3 linked regions of the Homo sapiens genome follow. The protein of the gene in region 1 purifies or fractionates together with the protein of each later gene. This does not show direct contact. Each region holds a gene or a part of one and is shown in the gene's direction. Other genes may lie near its edges.

Evidence for each region. Proteins that work in one complex are often made in the same cells at the same time.
Region 2: the proteins of USP36 (region 1) and CELSR2 purify together in Homo sapiens (affinity purification with mass spectrometry; 3 studies listed by BioGRID and IntAct, with this or other methods). This does not show direct contact.
Region 3: the proteins of USP36 (region 1) and NUDCD1 purify together in Homo sapiens (affinity purification with mass spectrometry; 2 studies listed by BioGRID and IntAct, with this or other methods). This does not show direct contact.

The regions. Positions count from the first base shown.
Region 1 is NC_000017.11:78,836,960-78,845,813, reverse strand, and holds the start of USP36 (ubiquitin carboxyl-terminal hydrolase 36), read left to right. Parts: upstream 1-4,999; 5' UTR 5,000-5,078; exon of another isoform or gene 5,079-5,535; intron 5,536-5,803; exon of another isoform or gene 5,804-5,975; intron 5,976-7,063; 5' UTR 7,064-7,227; intron 7,228-8,742; exon of another isoform or gene 8,743-8,854. UniProt on the Homo sapiens protein: Deubiquitinase essential for the regulation of nucleolar structure and function. Required for cell and organism viability.
Region 2 is NC_000001.11:109,273,539-109,276,251, forward strand, and holds the end of CELSR2 (cadherin EGF LAG seven-pass G-type receptor 2 precursor), read left to right. Parts: coding exon 1-132; intron 133-483; coding exon 484-511; 3' UTR 512-2,213; downstream 2,214-2,713. UniProt on the Homo sapiens protein: Receptor that may have an important role in cell/cell signaling during nervous system formation.
Region 3 is NC_000008.11:109,275,088-109,282,087, reverse strand, and holds part of NUDCD1 (nudC domain-containing protein 1), read left to right. Parts: intron 1-915; coding exon 916-1,120; intron 1,121-6,591; coding exon 6,592-6,736; intron 6,737-7,000.

The DNA.
Region 1 (8,854 bases):
AAGCATAAGCCATCTACACCTTTTTTTTTTTTTTTTTTTTTGAGACAGAGTCTCGCTCTGTCACCAAGGCTGGAGTGCGGTGGCGCGATCTCGGCTCACTGCAACCTCCACCTCCCGGGTTCAAGCAATTCTCCTGCCTCAGCCTCCTGAGTAGATGGGACTACAGGCAAATGCCACCATGCCCAGCTAATTTTTGTATTCTAGTTGAGACAGGGTTTCACCATGTTAGTCAGGCTGGTCTTGAACTTCTGACCTCAAGGTGATCCGCCCGACTCGACCTCCCAAAGTGCTGGGATTAGAGGCATGAGCTACTGCACCCAGCCCATCTACACCTTTGCAGGGGATTCTGGAGAATTCCGTGTAGCAGGATGACCTATGGAGACAAACTTGCCTCTCACCCGAGGCACCACTCACCTGTCTGTAGCCTGCGTGCTTCATCTATAGTTGGGACCTCTTGCCTGTGGGGCACCTGGTCCACCCTTCCAGCCTCAGCCATCCCAATGGCCTCCTTTTCTTTCCTTTTTTTTTTTTTTTTTTTTTTTGAGATGGAGTCTCGCTCTGTCTCGCAGGCTGGAGTGCAGTGGCGCGATCTCAGCTCATTGCAACCTCCACGTGCCAGGTTCAGTGATTCTCCTCTTTATTTTCTTGAAGGTGCCAAGCTCGCTCCTGTCTCGGGCATTTTGTTCGTGCTGTTCTCTCATTCCAGAACCTCCTTCCCTTGCTCCTCTTACAGCCGGTCTCTCATCTTCCCACTTTCAACGGAGGTAGCACATCCTCGCAAGAGTTTCCTCCGATGCCCCAGGCCAAGGTATTCTCCATCACCTCATCCTGCTCTTGGCCTGGTCACCGTTGGTCATAAAAATTATGCAAAAGTGTTCATTTGTTCATGACCTGCGTGTTCTTAAGTCCTTTGTGGGGAGAGTCCAGGGTTGATTCACTCACCACCATGTGGAACAGAGTAAATAAGAAATATTCGCTGGATGAATCAATTTGTTTGGTGCCACAGGGCCACAGGAAGGGGTGCCAGCCCCAAGAGAACAGTGGAGGCTTTGTGCGGCAGAGGCCTGGATCCTTCTTCCCCAGGAGTTGGAGACTGGAGGCCTTTAGCAAGTGCTTCCTAGGGAAACTTCAGGTCCCTCTGGGCAGAAAGGAGCCCAGAAGGGTGGATATTTGGGGGAGATGGCTGGCACCAGAGATGGCTGGCACCAAGGGGGCTGGGACTGCAGGAGGCTGTGTGGGGCGGGGACTTGGAGGGAAGTGACAGAGCAAGGGAAAGGGCTGGCGAGTGTGAGCGTGAGAGTCGGTGGATTTTGAAAGTGTGTGAGTGTGGTGGGGTGTGTGAGTGTGTGTGAGGATGTGAGTAAGAGAGAATGTATGTGTGTGTGTGTTGGGGGAATCCCTGGGACCGAACTTATTGTAGAAAGGGTGGCATCCTGCCCAGCTGCATTTAGGGGAAGGACCTCTGCCAGCCTAGGGCACATCTGGCTGAGGTGACCCTTGAGCTTGAGAGCAGTACCAGGGGAGCGATGCAGGGAATCCGCAGACTAGAAGACCAGGGTGCACCTCCCCAAACAGCCGGCTGCCTGGAGTGGCTCTTCGGAGCCTGGGTAAACCCCTGGAGATCTGTCCTATTCAAAGGAGGCAGAGAGCCCCCAAAATGATTGAGGTGGGGAATTCCAACCACCGATGGGGTAGAGGTATTAAACTAATTTAGTTTACCAAAATGAAACAAGAGAAAAGGCCGGGAGGTGGGGTGCGGTGGCTCACGCCTGTAATCCTTGCACTCTGGGAGGCTGAGGGGGGCAGATCACCTGAGGCCAAGAGTTCAAGACCAAACATGGCGAAACCCCATCTCTACTAAAAATACAAAAATCAGCTGGGTGTGGTGGCGTGCACCTGTGATCCCAGCTACTCTGGAGGCCGAGACACGATAATCGCTTGAACCCGGGAGGCGGAGCTTGCAGTGAGCTGAGATTGCACCACTGCACTCCAGCCTGGGCGACAGAGTGAGACTCCACCTCAGAAAAATAAAAAACAAGAGAAAACTACAAAATACGTATCCTGACTTGTGCCAAAGCATCTCGGAGCAGCTGCTGCTCTTGCTAGTGCCCTCTGTGGTCCCAACTCCTGGCCGCCACCTGCCCGGGCCTGGGCTGCCGCCTTGCACAGCCATTCTCCTGGCACGGTCAGATGTCTGAGAGTCAACACCATTTAGGAAGGATGACTTTCTCCACCCCTTCTGAGACTAGAAACAAAATGGAAGGGTCATAAGAATGGTGCCAAGCAGCCAAAAGAGCCACTTCCTTTGGGTACCAACAGGTGGCGTGGCGTCATGGCTCCTGTCTTCCCCAAGTGCCTGTGCCCAGCAGCTGCCTCTGCCTGTGCATCTTCTAGGGCGATGCTAATGGCAGATTTCCTGAGAGCCCTGTCCCATCTGCATGGATGGGAAGGACGACATACATTGCTGTTCTTCCTAAGGAAAGTGGCATCCCTCCCAAACCTGGGAACTCGGGTCTCCATGGACCGCACAGACACCTGAGAAAAGGTTTTGCATCAGAGGCTGATGGCAGAGGCTCTACCAGTCCAGCAAGTCACCTGACTGATGTGAAGGGTTCCCCTAGAGCAGGAGGGACATCTGGGCTGAAAACCCTCATGTGAAAAGGCCTGGGCCCCCCAGGCACTCGGCACCTATGAAATGCAACCCCAGCGGGTGGAAAAGCAAGTCCACGATTGCACTCCCCTGCCAGGCTAGGGAGAAATTCTGCTATTGCAGTTCAGGGGCAACACACCCACCCCCGCAGACCTGAGGGTGGCTGCAACTGTCAGCCACACCCAAAGAATGCAGGGCAGGCTCACTGTGGATAAATGTTTATGAAAGAACCACATGGAAATTGAAATATTTGAGATGAGACTGAATGATCTCTAAATCCTAAAAGAGAAAACTAGAGAAACATTAAAGATGAAAGAATAAAATATTCTGTTATAGAAAGCTGTAACCAAAACGGATCACATTAGAACTTACCTCAAGAAAAAGGTGCATTAACAGAATAGTTGTATTGTCACCCAAAAATTACCTGGTCCGCTCCCTGCCTGGGAGGTCAAGGTAAGATGGACTCAATTCCTCTCCTGGTTTCACAGCCTGTAGAAGATGGCTGAAGATTTGGGCTAATTTCGTGAGAGACCTACGTTGCATTTCTTTCTTTTTTTTTTTTTTAGACCAAGTATTGCTCTGTTGTCCAGGCTGCTGGAGTGCAATGGCACGATCTCAGCTCATTGCAACCTCCACCTCCCAGGTACAAGCGATTCTCCTGTCTCAGCCTCCCTAGTAGCTCGGATTACAGGCGTGCGCCACCATACCCAGCTAATTTTTGTATTTTTAGTAGAGACAGGTTTTCACCATGTTGGCCAGGCTGGTCTGGAATTCCTGACCTCAAGCGATCTGCCTGCCTCGGCCTCCCAAAGTGCTAGGATTACAGGCGTGAGCCACTGTGCCCTGCCTTTTTTTCTTTTCTTTTCTTTTCTTTTGAGACGGAGTCTCGCTCTGTCGCCCAGGCTGGAGTGCAGTGGCGACATCTCAGCTCGCTGCAACCTCCGCCTCCTAGGTTCAAGGGATTCTCGTGCCTCAGCCTCCTGAGTAGCTGGGATTACAGGCGCCCACCACCACACCCAGCTAATTTTTGTATGTTTAGTAGAGACGGGGTTTCACCATGTTGGCCATGCTGGTCTCGAACTCCTGACCTCAGGTGATCCGCCCACCTTGGCCTCCAAGTGTTGGGATTACAAGGGTGAGCCACCGCGCCCAGCCCAAGGATTCTTACAGATAGGGCATAGTCTCAGCATCAGACTAATATGGTTATCTTGTTTGCTTTTTTCAAAAAACACCAGCGCCCAGGTAATAAATACAAGGTGAATTTTGTTCCAAGTACATCTAGCCTCTCTCCCCATCTCCAGTCCCTGCTTTAGGATCCGTGGGGAGGGCATGGAAATTCGTTTTGGGTTGTTTACCTGTGACTTCACCCTACTCATCATTCCTACTTACATCAAAAAAGACACAGCAGATACGACTGTGTTTGCAAAGTTCTGCCTTTTGGATAAAGTAGTTTATGCCCATCCTGTGCTTCTCTGAGTTTCTGAGGTCAGGCCAGGAACCAACACTCTCAACCTGCCCAAGGGAATGGGGAGGAAGCCAGCGAAGTTGCCTCAGATCAAGAGGATTTTTAAAAATACTGCAAAAGAAATACGTGCTCACAAATACTCAGCTAAAACCTTCGCAGAGCTGTCAGAGGACAAAGCTTTTGGAGGGAGTGGGTGGAGCTAGAGATTGCACAGCCGCCACCAGCCTACAAAGGTCAAATCTCACACTCTCAGATCCCTAATTCCGAAGAGCCATTTCCTCGGCAGCCCCAGGCTTTGGCCGATCGCTCCCAGATCCCTCCCTCCCCAAACTGCAGGTGCTCCGCGTGTGGGAGTCACGGATGGCCCCAGAGCCCGGGACGTTAAGGCCGAGCGCCCGCGCCTCCGCTTCTCCACAGCCACCTGACGGCCAGGGGCAGGTGGGGGAGCCCAGCCTTCTCCCTGCCCGGGAGACAGCGCGGGAGGGCTGTTGCAGGGGTGGGCAAAGTCCCTCGAGTCCCCGTTCTGGGGCGGGGGCGCGCGCCACTGTCACACTTCAGGCGTCCGCCACGCCGCCAGGTGTGCTCGGCCGACCCGGAAGTAGCGGCACCTCTAGTGCGCTGCGGAGACGTCACCCTGCCGCGGCACAGGGGCGGGAGCGCCTGTGGCTCTGCGCACTTGCGTCATCACGTAGGCTGGCGGGGTCCCGTGATGGGGAGGTGACGTAGGCGACACGGAAGCGGCGGTGGGCGGGGACAGGGAGTTAGCGGAATCTAGCCCCGCCTCTTAAAGCCTCCCAACCCTTTCGGAGTTAGCGCAGCGCGAACGCTGGGTGCGGCGCCTTTAAGCGTCGCGGTGACACGTGTGTGAGGCGCCGGAGGCCCGGATGGTGCGCGTGCTGGGCCGCGGGCCGAAGGAGTCGCCAGGGCTGCGTAGGCTTGTGGCGCGCCCGCGGAGAGGCCGGGGTAGGCTGGGGTCGGGTCGGGGCGGTGCGCAGGCCTGGGGACGAGACCGGGGCGGGGGGTTCCGCGAGGCCTGGGGCGCGGGAAGGGCTGGCGGGCGCAGCCGGGACGCTCAGGGAGAACGTGGGCGCGGGTCCGCGCAGGGCTTCGGCCGTCCCCGAGGAGGACCCGGGATGCTCCGCCCGCTCGCGAGCTCGCTTCTCCAGAGCCCGGGTATTCCCGAGGAGGGTCCGGGGCCGGGCTGTCCTCGCCGGTCTCCGCCGTCCCCCGGGCTCCGGGCCGGTGATGGGGGTCGCCGGGGCCCGCTGTCTGTGCAGGATTCAGGTCAACTTCGGAGAGGTTGAAGTCGGAATCAGGGCGAGGGCGTCGCGTGCGGCCGCAGAGCTCAGCGGGGCGGGTGCGGCCCCGGGGCGGGCACCTTCCTCGTGGTTGCGGAGGAGGCCATGGAGCCCGGGGCGGGGTGCGGTTCCGATGCTGCTGCTTCTGGCGGGTGGCGTGGGGGTCCTGGGCCTGGGGCTGGAGTGGCGGCCGCCAAACCCAGACACACGAGAGGGGAGACTCCGCGCGCCCCCGTTTACGTAACGCTCGCCACGGAGCCATGCTCGGGGAGAGGTGCTCGGGTCGCTGTGTCCGCGGCCGGGCTCGGGGCAGGCGCTGCGGAGTCGCCCGGGAGGCCCCTGGAGCGCGGCGCTGGGCCCCGGGAGGCCGCTGCTTCCGTGGGCTCCTCTCCCCAGCACGTGGTTGACCCTGCGAGCGTCCGTTGCAGTTCATCCTGGAAAAGTGACTTTAGAAGGAGGAGGGAGCGGGAATGAGCCTAAATGGTGCTGGCTGGGGTTCGCGCAGGTGGAAATGTGGATGAGGCCTGTGCTGTCCTTGGACAAGAGAGAGCATCCTTCCTGAGTTGGGTAGAGTGTGGATGGTGTGTGCGTCGGAGGGATTGCTAGTGATTACAGGAACACTTGTCTCGGGCTCCTACACGTCAGAGAGCGAGCGAGCGTTGTTTAGGTTATTGCTTAATGTTTTAGGTGGAATTGGTGAAGTAGAGATTGACCTGTCCCACTTGAAAAATTGTGTTCAAAATCTCTGCATCTACATTAAGGAGTGGGTTAAGTTCAAAGTTACTTATCTCGAGTGAAACTGGGTTACATCTCCCAAGGTTCGTTTATCCCCTCCCTAAGTGGTTCTCAAGCGTTGGTTGTGCATGACAGAGTTCTCACCTTCCAGGGTAGATGTGAGTCCTAACCGAAAGCAGTGATATTGTGGGGAGTTTTTAATACGACTGGATGTCTTCACTTTGTAGATGGCTTTTATTCTGAGATCATTTCCTTACACATTTTTCGGGAGTTGGTATGCTTTTATTTATGGATGAAGTCATAGGTCTGAGATTTGCTGTAGAATTACCTGGGGATGGGAAGTGACTCAGGATGGGTCAGATGTAGTTACTGAGGCTGAATAAGGGGGGCTCATGTGCTCCCTGTGCGGTTCTCCATCTGTGTGTTTGAATGTTTTCACTGTAAACTGTTTTTACGAACCTTAATTTTATGTAATCATAGTGATCGTAGATGGTAATGAAAGAGAAAATCCACACTTAGCAAAGCAAAATTTTGGCAACTCCTATTACTCCCTGAGGTTTGTTGTTGTTGTTATTGAAGTTTTACTGGTTCATTAAATCCAAAACTTGGGGATTTATTACCTCTTACTCTTTGGAAATAAGATTAGACTGGAGCTGACTGGCAGGTGTTGGGGAGGTTTTCCTTCTCTGGGCTTGTCTGGGGTCAAGGTTAAGGTGTTCATATCGTGTGCATTACAACAACTGGTGATGAGGTAGTACGGTCCACCCGCCTCATCCTGAGTGCACGCGTGGATGCTCCTTGGACGGCTTTTTCGTGGTAGAGGGTTCCCGGTGCGCGCCGCATCCCTGGGAAGTAGCTGAAGAGAAGGCACAGGAAGAGTCGCCTCCACTGATGGTCTCCCTGTCCCTCCCACAGGCTCTGACGCCCGCTCTGCGGCTTCGGTGTTTGAACAGGCCACAGTCCAGGAGCGCTTACATTCAGGAGCTCCGCGTAGCACCTGCCCAACCAAACTCAGCCCTCCGTTAAGATCCTGGTTCCATGCCGCAGTAGGACAGCAGGCCCAAGTCTGCACATCCCAGGTGAGTCTGCGAGGCTTCTGTGTATTTTTTGATTCCGTTGAATTGTCTGCATGTGACGCAGCAGTGATTGTTCAGTTGGTGAGAAGTCTTTGATAATTCTCATGAGAAAAGGCTCTTTTATTTTCTCAAATCAGACAACTTATAATGCTTTTTTTTAAATAAGCTTCTGAAATTTCTTTACAGAAGTTTTTTGTTTTTTGTTTTTTTTTTTTTTTGAGACCAAGTCTTGCTCTGTTGCCCAGGCTGGAGTGCAGTGGCGCGATCTCGGCTCACTCCAACCTCTGCCTCCCGTGTTCAAGCAATTCTCTGCCTCAGCCTCCTGCGTAGCTGGGATTACAGGCGCCTGCCACCATGCCTGGCTAGTTTTTTTGTATTTTTAGTAGAGAAACATCTTCGCCAGGCTGGTCTTGAATTCCTGACCTCCTGATCCACCCGTCTCGGCCTCCCAAGTGCTGGGATTACAGGCGTGAGCCACGATTTTTTTTGTTTTAAAGATGGGGTCTCACGATGTTGCCCAGGCTGGACTGCACTGGCTATTCACAGGCGTAATCATAGCTCACTGCAGCCTCAGGCTCCTGCCCTCAAGTTATCCTCCCACCTCAGCCTCCCAAGCATCTGGGACGACAGGCCCAGGCCACTGCACCTGGCTTTTCTTTACAGAAGTTTTTGTAGAAAAAGATACTTGATCCATGTATAGAATTAGATGATCCACAGTGATAAATTTGAATGGCTTAATATGAGGTGCTGGAGGAAGTCCTTACTTTCACTAGAGCAGAATTTTGGGGCACACTTGACTTGTTGATTCTCTGAGGGCAGGCTGGGTACTGAATACCAGAGGAAGTCATCATTTTTCTGATGTGAGTGAGCAATTTAAGGGACATATTTTTGAAATTGTGACTCAGATAGTCTGTGCTGTGTTTGGGAAGGTTAAGTTGAGAGGTGGTGGGTAGGGGAGGGCAAGTGGTGGATACAAAGGTAGCGATTGGAGAGGTGCAGGGGTCTCTTCTTGGTTACAGTTTCCATGCAGCTGCACCAACAGTATCGATCCTCTGTTAGGGACTGTAGTATGTAGCAAGCTCTAAAGCACTTCCCAAGCCTATTATTTTTGTTGCTATTTTACAGTAGAATAGGGGGTTTGGAGAAGTCATAGTAGTTGTCCCTGGGTTTCATAGCTAAGGATGATAGAACCTCCCGGGGCCACCACATTCCAAAGCCTGTGATCTCCCCACTCTCCTGCTTGGCTTTTCTTCTTCTCTTTTGATAAGAGTCCTGGGAAGACATTTGTTTAAGTTTAGGTGTCTAATGGATACTAGTCTCTAGGCCTGCTACTTGCTTTTCTTCTCCTTCCTCACTTTTAAAAAGATAATTTGTACTCCAAGCACTGTGTAATGGAGATTAATACAAGCCACAAATATAATTTAAAATTTTATAGTAGCCACATTAAAAAGAAGCAGGTGAAATTCATTTTCATAATTTATTTAACTCAATATATATAAAATATTACCATTTCAACAGGTAACTGATCTAAAAATTACTGGGATGTTTTACATTCTCTTCTTATACTAGTGAGTATTTCTCTTCAAAATCTGGTGTGCATTTTACACTTATAGCACCTCTCAACCTGGAC
Region 2 (2,713 bases), on another chromosome or scaffold:
TGAGGGCAGCCGGGGAGGCCCCCCTCCCCGCCCACCGCCCCGGCAGAGCCTCCAGGAGCAGCTGAACGGGGTCATGCCCATCGCCATGAGCATCAAGGCAGGCACGGTGGATGAGGACTCGTCAGGCTCCGAGTGAGTGTGGCCGGGTGGGCGGGACGGGGTGCAGCCCCTCGGAGGCCTCACCTGGGCCCAGAGCTGCCTCCGGGCCTCCCCAGGTGACTCTGGATGGCATTTGGAGGACAAATGGGCAGAACTGGCCCAGCTCCCTTACTATGCCGTGCCCACAAACCATGGTGCCTTGCGGGGAGGGCCACCCCTCCTAGGCTCTACGCGGCGCAGCCCAGCCTAGGGCAGAGTGCGGGAGGATGGGGAGCTGGGGGTGCTTTCCTGTTTCCTTCGTCTGGTGAAAGCTTTCACTCTCTCCTCTGTTTCAACTAACCCTCTGTCTGCCTTTTCTGCCACTTTCCTTTCCTGCCTCTCCAGATTTCTCTTCTTTAACTTCCTGCATTAACCCTGGGCCGTGGTTCCTACGCCCGAGGCTCCCTTCCCTTCCCCAGCCGCACTCATGCCCTGCTCCTGTCTTGTGCTTTATCCTGCCCCGCTCCCCATCGCCTGCCCGCAGCAGCGACGAAACGTCCATCTGAGGAGCCTGGGCCTTGCCGGGAGGGGTACTCACCCCACCTAAGGCCATCTAGTGCCAACTCCCCCCCCACCATTCCCCTCACTGCACTTTGGACCCCTGGGGCCAACATCTCCAAGACAAAGTTTTTCAGAAAAGAGGAAAAAAAGAATTTAAAAAAGGATCTCCACTCTTCATGACTTCAGGGATTCATTTTTTTTATACGCTGGAAATTGACTCCCCTTTCCCTTCCCAAAGAGGATAGGACCTCCCAGGATGCTTCCCAGCCTCTCCTCAGTTTCCCATCTGCTGTGCCTCTGGGAGGAGAGGGACTCCTGGGGGGCCTGCCCCTCATACGCCATCACCAAAAGGAAAGGACAAAGCCACACGCAGCCAGGGCTTCACACCCTTCAGGCTGCACCCGGGCAGGCCTCAGAACGGTGAGGGGCCAGGGCAAAGGGTGTGCCTCGTCCTGCCCGCACTGCCTCTCCCAGGAACTGGAAAAGCCCTGTCCGGTGAGGGGGCAGAAGGACTCAGCGCCCCTGGACCCCCAAATGCTGCATGAACACATTTTCAGGGGAGCCTGTGCCCCCAGGCGGGGGTCGGGCAGCCCCAGCCCCTCTCCTTTTCCTGGACTCTGGCCGTGCGCGGCAGCCCAGGTGTTTGCTCAGTTGCTGACCCAAAAGTGCTTCATTTTTCGTGCCCGCCCCGCGCCCCGGGCAGGCCAGTCATGTGTTAAGTTGCGCTTCTTTGCTGTGATGTGGGTGGGGGAGGAAGAGTAAACACAGTGCTGGCTCGGCTGCCCTGAGGGTGCTCAATCAAGCACAGGTTTCAAGTCTGGGTTCTGGTGTCCACTCACCCACCCCACCCCCCAAAATCAGACAAATGCTACTTTGTCTAACCTGCTGTGGCCTCTGAGACATGTTCTATTTTTAACCCCTTCTTGGAATTGGCTCTCTTCTTCAAAGGACCAGGTCCTGTTCCTCTTTCTCCCCGACTCCACCCCAGCTCCCTGTGAAGAGAGAGTTAATATATTTGTTTTATTTATTTGCTTTTTGTGTTGGGATGGGTTCGTGTCCAGTCCCGGGGGTCTGATATGGCCATCACAGGCTGGGTGTTCCCAGCAGCCCTGGCTTGGGGGCTTGACGCCCTTCCCCTTGCCCCAGGCCATCATCTCCCCACCTCTCCTCCCCTCTCCTCAGTTTTGCCGACTGCTTTTCATCTGAGTCACCATTTACTCCAAGCATGTATTCCAGACTTGTCACTGACTTTCCTTCTGGAGCAGGTGGCTAGAAAAAGAGGCTGTGGGCAGGAAAGAAAGGCTCCTGTTTCTCATTTGTGAGGCCAGCCTCTGGCTTTTCTGCCGTGGATTCTCCCCCGTCTTCTCCCCTCAGCAATTCCTGCAAAGGGTTAAAAATTTAACTGGTTTTTACTACTGATGACTTGATTTAAAAAAAATACAAAGATGCTGGATGCTAACTTGGTACTAACCATCAGATTGTACAGTTTGGTTGTTGCTGTAAATAGGGTAGCGTTTTGTTGTTGTTGTTTTTTCATGCCCCATACTACTGAATAAACTAGTTCTGTGCGGGTACAGCACTGTCACTGTCCGCTTCTGTGTGGTACCCTGTCCTCCCACAGGGAGGAAGGTCTGGTCTCTGGAAAACAGAAGAGCCGGCAGGGCCCAGAAGGCCCCACCGGGAGGTCGGGAGACTCAGACACCACTGGCTGATAAGCCTGTCCCTCTGCCCATGTCCATGACACTGCTCCCAAATAGCTGGATCAGCACAGAGCCCATTTCCTGGCATTTCCAAGGAAGACATGGTGGGCGGGCAGGAAGGTGTCCTTTTCACCAGGACGGAAAGGACTTCTACGGTGGGAGAGGCTGCACGGGGCAGGCAGCCTTCCAGCCCAGCCCCTCAGGGCTGAGTCCTAGACAGGGATGAGTTTTCTGGGGCAGAATTCAAGAAGCAGGGAGGGCTGCATTGAGAGGCTGGTTGGAATTGAATGGTGGTCAGTGACTCAGTGCCTCCTAACTATACTGCTCAGGGTTGTTTTTTGTTTTTTTTTTCCCATTGGAAAATGAAGCAGCTA
Region 3 (7,000 bases), on another chromosome or scaffold:
TGGCAGCCACTAAATGCCCAGAGGCATACCTAAGTGTGGAGCTAAGAAACCCTCCCAGCCCCAAGTTCTCTGGACAGGGTTCGGGGGATGGCATGAGCTCCTAATCTAGGAGAGCTCCAGGTGCCTGGAGCTCTGCCTAGGCATGGAGCAGGGAGGGCCCCTCTGTATGAAAATCTCTGCACAGGAGATGTAGGTTAACTCAGGCTGTTGAAACAGGCAAACAGGTGCTTTGAATGCCTGAAAGTCCACCTGGGTGTGAAGCAGAGAGGGCCCCCCAACACCAGATCTATGAATAGGAAAGGTGGGACAGTTCAGGCTGCAATCTGGGCAAGGTGCTTTGAATGCCTGGAGGTCTGCTTAGAAATGGAGTGGATAGGGCCTGGCTGCACTGTGATGTATGCACAGGAAGGGTTGGGGTAGTATGGCCTTTAATTTATACTAAAAGTGCATGTGATTTTGCACATCCTCCCATTCCCATTATCTGGCAGAAGCTATCCATTGAGATATTATTATGTAACTGCTTTGCTAGCTTTTCTGGGTAACATATTTTATGTTCTTTTGAACTAGGGATTCACTCTGTGTGTGTGTGTGTTTGTTTAAAGGAAAGAAGGAGTGAAAGAGGGAGGAAGGGAGGGAGAGAGGGAAGAAATGAGGATAAAGGATTGCTATCATTAGTATTTTATGAGTGCTTTATCTCCTCAAGCATCAGGTAAGTCTGGAAGAGGAAAATTTCATGTTAATTGCTGCAAATCTTTGAGTGAAAATTCCTCAAAGAGATCTGTGCATGTTTGTTTATAATTACGTTTTGTGAGATGATCACTAGTAAATATACTAAAATTCTTTTAGATAGGTTTTGTGTGTGTGTATGCTTTCTCTAATTTTTTATTACATGATGCATTTTTCTTTTCCCAATAGAACCTCTGTATTACTGGCAACAGACTGAAGATGATTTGACAGTAACCATACGGCTTCCAGAAGACAGTACTAAGGAGGACATTCAAATACAGTTTTTGCCTGATCACATCAACATTGTACTGAAGGATCACCAGTTTTTAGAAGGAAAACTCTATTCATCTATTGATCATGAAAGCAGTACATGGATAATTAAAGAGAGTAATAGGTATTTTTTTTTAATTTTACTTTAATATTCTATTATCTTTTTTTCTTTTCTTTTTACTCTTTCCACAGTGGTTACATCAGAGATTAATACAATAGTTCTGTCTGTATTGCTGGTTACTTTTCTTAAGATATATTAAAAATAGAATTACTGTGTCAAAGAGCATATTTCTAGTTGAAATTAAAGATAGTAGCATAGCTATCACTTGGAGAATATGGTAGTGCTTTGTTTTACCAGCTCTGGATACAATAATAATCATAGGTGAAAATGGCTATTTTAAATTGCACTTTTTCAAACTTTTTAATAGAAATAATTTTTTTAACTTTAGTTTGCTGGCTTGATAATATATTTCCATTCTTTAAAATTTTAAATATACAAAAGGATGTAGAGTGAGAAGTCTGCCTCCAACACAAGCCTATGGGTCACCCATCCTCCCACTCCTCACAATCAGTGTTGTTACATTTTACATACATTCAAGCATGACACATACTTTTTCCTTTTCTTTAAGGAAAACTACTTTTGGCGGCTAGCTGCAGTGGCTCACGCCTGTAATCCCAACATTTGGGATGCTGAGGTAGGAGGATTGCTTGAGGCCAGGAGTTTGTGACCAGCCTAGGCAAGAAGAGAAAACCCTGTCTCTAACAACAATAAAAAAGTTTTTTGACACATACTTTACACAATTATACATCTTGCTTTTGTTCACTTGCAATGATAAATCTTAGGGATCTTTCCATAATGAATATATAAAAATTATTAAATTCTCTTTTATGACATCACGGTATTTTATTCTATCAACTGCACCATCATTTTAGACAATTAATCCTCTATTGTGTTAATTTAGGTTGTTTTCAATAACTTCTGTTTATATACATATTATTTCACATGTGTAGAAATATATATGAAGGATAAATTTCTAAAAGTGGAATAATTAATATTTCTTTGTAAATTGTAGTAATTTTTTCTTATGTAAATTCTCCATTTACATTTGTTTTTTGAACTGTGTGTTCAGGACACAAAGCCATAAAAGAAATACATAAGTGGCCAGGCACAGTGGCTCATGCCTGTAATCCCAGCACTTTGGGAGGCTGAGGCGGGTGGATTGCCTGAGGTCAGGAGTTCGAGACCAGCCTGACCAACATGGTGAAACCCCGTCTCAACTAAAAACACAAAAATTAGCTGGGCGTGGTGGCGGGTGCCTGTAATCCCAGCTACTTGGGAGGCTGAGACAGGAGAACTACTTGAACCCGGGAGGCGGAGGTTTCCGAGACCAGGCCATTGCTTTCCGGCCCTGGGCAATAAGAGTGAAACTACGTCTCAAAAAAAAAAGAAAGAAATACATAAGTTAGACTTCATCAAAACAGACATTTTCTGCATATCAAAATTAAAAATTTTTGTTCTTCTAAAGATACCATTAAGAGAACAAAAAGGTAAGCCATGAACTGGGAAAAAATATTCACAGTATTCATCTTAAACCAAAGGACTTTCATTCTTAGTGTATAAGGAAGCCTTACAAATTCATAATAAGCCAATTTTTTAAATGGTCAAATTATTTGAATAGACATGTCACAATAGAAGATAGATGAACAGCTAGTAAGCACATCAAAAGGTAATTATCATTAGACATTAGGAAAATTAAAACTAGAGTGAGACACCAATACATGACTAAAACTTTGAAGACTGACAGTATCAAACGTTGGCAAGGATGTGGGGCACCAGCAACTCATTCATATCTGGTACGAGTGTAAAATAATAATACAATCACTTTGGCAGACTGTTTAGCAGTTTCATATCAAGTTAAACATATACCTATTTTTAATCTTAACAATTCTACTCCTTGATGTTTAACCAAAATAAATGAATGTATATAATTTTTTGTTTTTCTGAGACAGGGTCTCACTCTGTTGCCCAGGATGGAGTGCAGTGGCACAGTCACTCAGCTAATTTTTGTATTTTTTGTAGAGATGGGGTTTTGCCATGTTGCTCAGACTGGTCTCGAACTCCTGACCTCAAGCGATCTGCCTGCTTCGACCTCCCAAAGTGCTAGGATTACAGGTGTGAGCCACCATGCCCAACTGAAAATATATGTTAAAAAACAAAACAAAGCCAAAACAAATTTGCAAACATATATTCATAGCAGGCATACTTATAAAAGCCAGAAATATCTCTAGTGTTACTGAAAAGGTGAATGGATAAGTACGTGTGGTATATTCATACAATGGAATGTTACTCTGTAATAAAGTGCTAGCAATAAATAAAAAGCAATATGAATGAATTAAAAACATGTGGAGTGAAAGAAGCCAAAGACAAAAAATCATACTGTATGATTCCACATATGGAGTTCTAGAACTGGCAAAACTAATCTATGGTGATACAAATCAGAACACTTGTTATCTCTAGGGTGTAGGGAGATTGACTGAAGAAAGGCCAAGGGAACTGCCTGTATGGTGGAAATAATTCAGTATCCTCATTGGGTTACAAAGGTGTATGCATTTGTCAAAATCAGTAAATTCTACACTTAAAACCTGTGAATTTTATTTATAAATTACACCTCAATTAAAGGAGCAAAACTGTGTCTTTTTAAAAAAAGATAAAGTTAAGTGTCTTTTAAAATTATAATCCTTTGCCCCCCACAACTGTGCCATTTTGCAAATCTATTATTCCAGGCAGTTTTTTCCCCAATTATTTGGATTACTAAAATTACTTTCTTTTATTTTAAATCAAGTCTTAGTAATTATTAAATTCAGTGATGGATTAATGAATAGAGTTAGGCAGTTAATTTTTTAAATAGTCAAATTTGGTCAGAAATGAGAAATGGTTGATTTAAAATACAACCTAAATCTTGTGCTTTAAGTTGATGTTACATAGAGGATAACTTAGATGTTTTTACACAAAGTATAGTTCTTAATTAGTAGTATATGATCCATGTGAGTCTGATACAAGTCTAAATCATGAGCATCCAAGAAAAATATATCTAGCTCATAGAAAGTTTGAAGTTGTAAAAGGTATCTTACATTTTATTAATGAAGACATTTGGTGATTTTGTTACACTTTTTAATATATCAAAAATAATTGCTTGAAAGTTTCTTTTAAAAGTATTTTGTATCTCCACATACTCCATTTAATTATGTTTATGTGTATGTGAGTCACATTTACAAATTGGCAAGCCAACTAGAACATATTGTTAAATGTAAGTCATCAAGCAGTAACCCAGCAAAGGTCTGGGGGAATAGCTTGACTTCATGTAAGTAGTTTCAGCATTCAATGCATCAACATAGATCAGTATTATTTTTCCATTAAATTTGAGGTGTTTGATTATTATTTTGTGTTAAAAAAGATAACTACAATGTAGCGTAGGTGGTATTGTTGTTTTAAAAACACGATTTTCTGTACTTGAGTAAATTATTCGTACCTCTCGTTTTCAAAAGTTACTGTTGTCTCACTTTGGAAAGATTTTTTTAACTAATCTGTAGTTTATTATATTTGGCATTGTTTGGGGTTTTTTTTTTGCTTGGATGGTAGCATACAATACTAGTTTTAAAACGTACAAATGCAGTCTTAGAAGAAGGGTGCACTGATTAACTGTGCAAATTAATGATGGTTTGGAAATTATAACAGATTGTATCAACTCTTTCAGACCTCTTTAGGTAGCAACTAAGAACAGTTCACTGGGTAAGTGTTCTTTAATAGTTATTTACATATATTTTTTCAGAGAGGCAGAATAGTGCAGTAGTGAAGAACATGGACTTAGAGCCAGACTGTTTAAATAGCTTGTGACCTTGGCAAGTTGCTTAACCTCAGTACTTTTTTTTCTTACTTGTAAAATGGTGATGATAATAATATTTACAGTACTTTATTTGGTTGTTGTAACCAATGAGTTAAAACATGTAAAGTGCTTAAGACAGCACCTGACATATAGGTAAGTATAAGCTATGGTCATTATTACTATTATTATCATCATCATTATTATCAAGATTACCTTTATCCTTAGAAAATGTAACTCAGTCTGGGGGCTGGGCACGGTGGCTCACACCTATAATCCTAGCACTTTGGGAGACCAAGGCAGGCAGATCACTTGAGGCCAGGAGTTTAAGATCAGCCTGGCCAACATGACAAAACCCTGTCTCTACTAAAAATACAAATATTAGCCAGGTGGGCATGATGGCGTGGCCTGTAATCCCAGCTACTTACTTGGGAGGCTGAGGCACGAGAGTCACTTGAACCCGGGAGTTGGAGGTTGCAGTAAGAGAGATTGTGCCATTGCACTGCAGCCTGGGCAAGAGAGTGAGACTCTGTCTCAAAAAAAGAAAAGATGTAACTAAATCTGGGCTTTTATTGTGGGAGTAATTTTCAGTGCTAATTATAAGTACTCATATTATTATTTTGTATAGTCTCTTAAAATAGGTAGTTTCAGAAAAATGTTAAATGCTGTAATTCATAAGGTAGTGATTGTAACAGTCTTGAAAAAGAACAGCTGGTAAGTTTGCGTGTCCTATTTGATAACTATAATAGTTATTATTGTATTCTTGCAGTTGTGTTCCAGGGCATGAGCTAATATGGTACATGTGTACGAAAGATGGCACATGGAAAAGGTTGCTTTGTTGTGGAATAGCTATTACCACTCCCCTTTTCTGTTATAGCAGTGGGTGCTCCCAAAGCATCTTACTTGGGTTTTCCTTCCTATTCCAGAGGAACATGGGACAAGTTACTTCTTCTCCTATGTCCGTAGTCTGCCTTGACTCTGCTCTCTTTCCCTTTCCTGCTGCATCAGTCCTTGATCTCAGGGTTCCCTGACAGACCATTTTAAGTGCATCTGGAATTGTTTAGTTGTTTACATGTACAGAATTAGATTTTAAATAAGTTAATAGAGAACACATTAACATCTTTTTTCCCTGTATTACCAAAGTTAATTTTTTTCCTTATTTCTACTTTTCAGTTATTTAACATCTGTATTTTAAAATTAAGATTTGCGTTGATTTAACCTGCTTGATCTTCAGGTTAATAATCATATATTATGGCTCTTAGTTTGTGAAAATAAAGTTAATTGTTGATTCCAGACACAAAGAATTATCCTTTAATTACAGCCCTTTTACTCTTTGCTTACATGCCCACACCCCCGACCATTCCCCAGATGTCTTATAGATCCATGCTTCTTGTATTTCTATTAAGTTCAGGAACATACTGCATACCAGTACTTTCTGGATGACTTGACTCTTTCCAGGCAATCCTCTCTTCAGGCCATTTGATGTACCATTTCCAGTGGTACTTTCTTTCTTTATTAAATCTGGACTATTTGCCATTGGATTATAGGTTTTCCATCACATGCAAAACTTAAATGAGCAAGATTTTTGGTAAACCATCCTCTGGACACCGGAGGGTTCTTTCTATAGAAGATAGAAACAAACAATGTTTGCTACTGATTGTATAATTTGTATAATTGCTTAATGTAACATTACTTTTCCCATTTAAACTTCTAGCTTGGAGATTTCCTTGATTAAGAAGAATGAAGGACTGACCTGGCCAGAGCTAGTAATTGGAGATAAACAAGGGGAACTTATAAGAGATTCAGCCCAGTGTGCTGCAATAGCTGAACGTTTGATGCATTTGACCTCTGAAGAACTGGTAAGTAGTTGGAATAGTAGTGTGACTTTCCAAGGGTCCAAAAATATGTTATGTGAAGATTATGCCATGCTTTTCAAACAATATTTTGCTTTTCCTAATATAAAAGATACATATCAGATACTACTGATCTGAGTGATGTTTGAATATGGCCTAAGTTCTAATATTTATTTCTTACACTATGTAAATACATACATATATGTGTGGTCATACTGTATAGAGGGTTTGCCTGTATCTGTTTATGTGTGCGTATGTATTGTGCGCTCT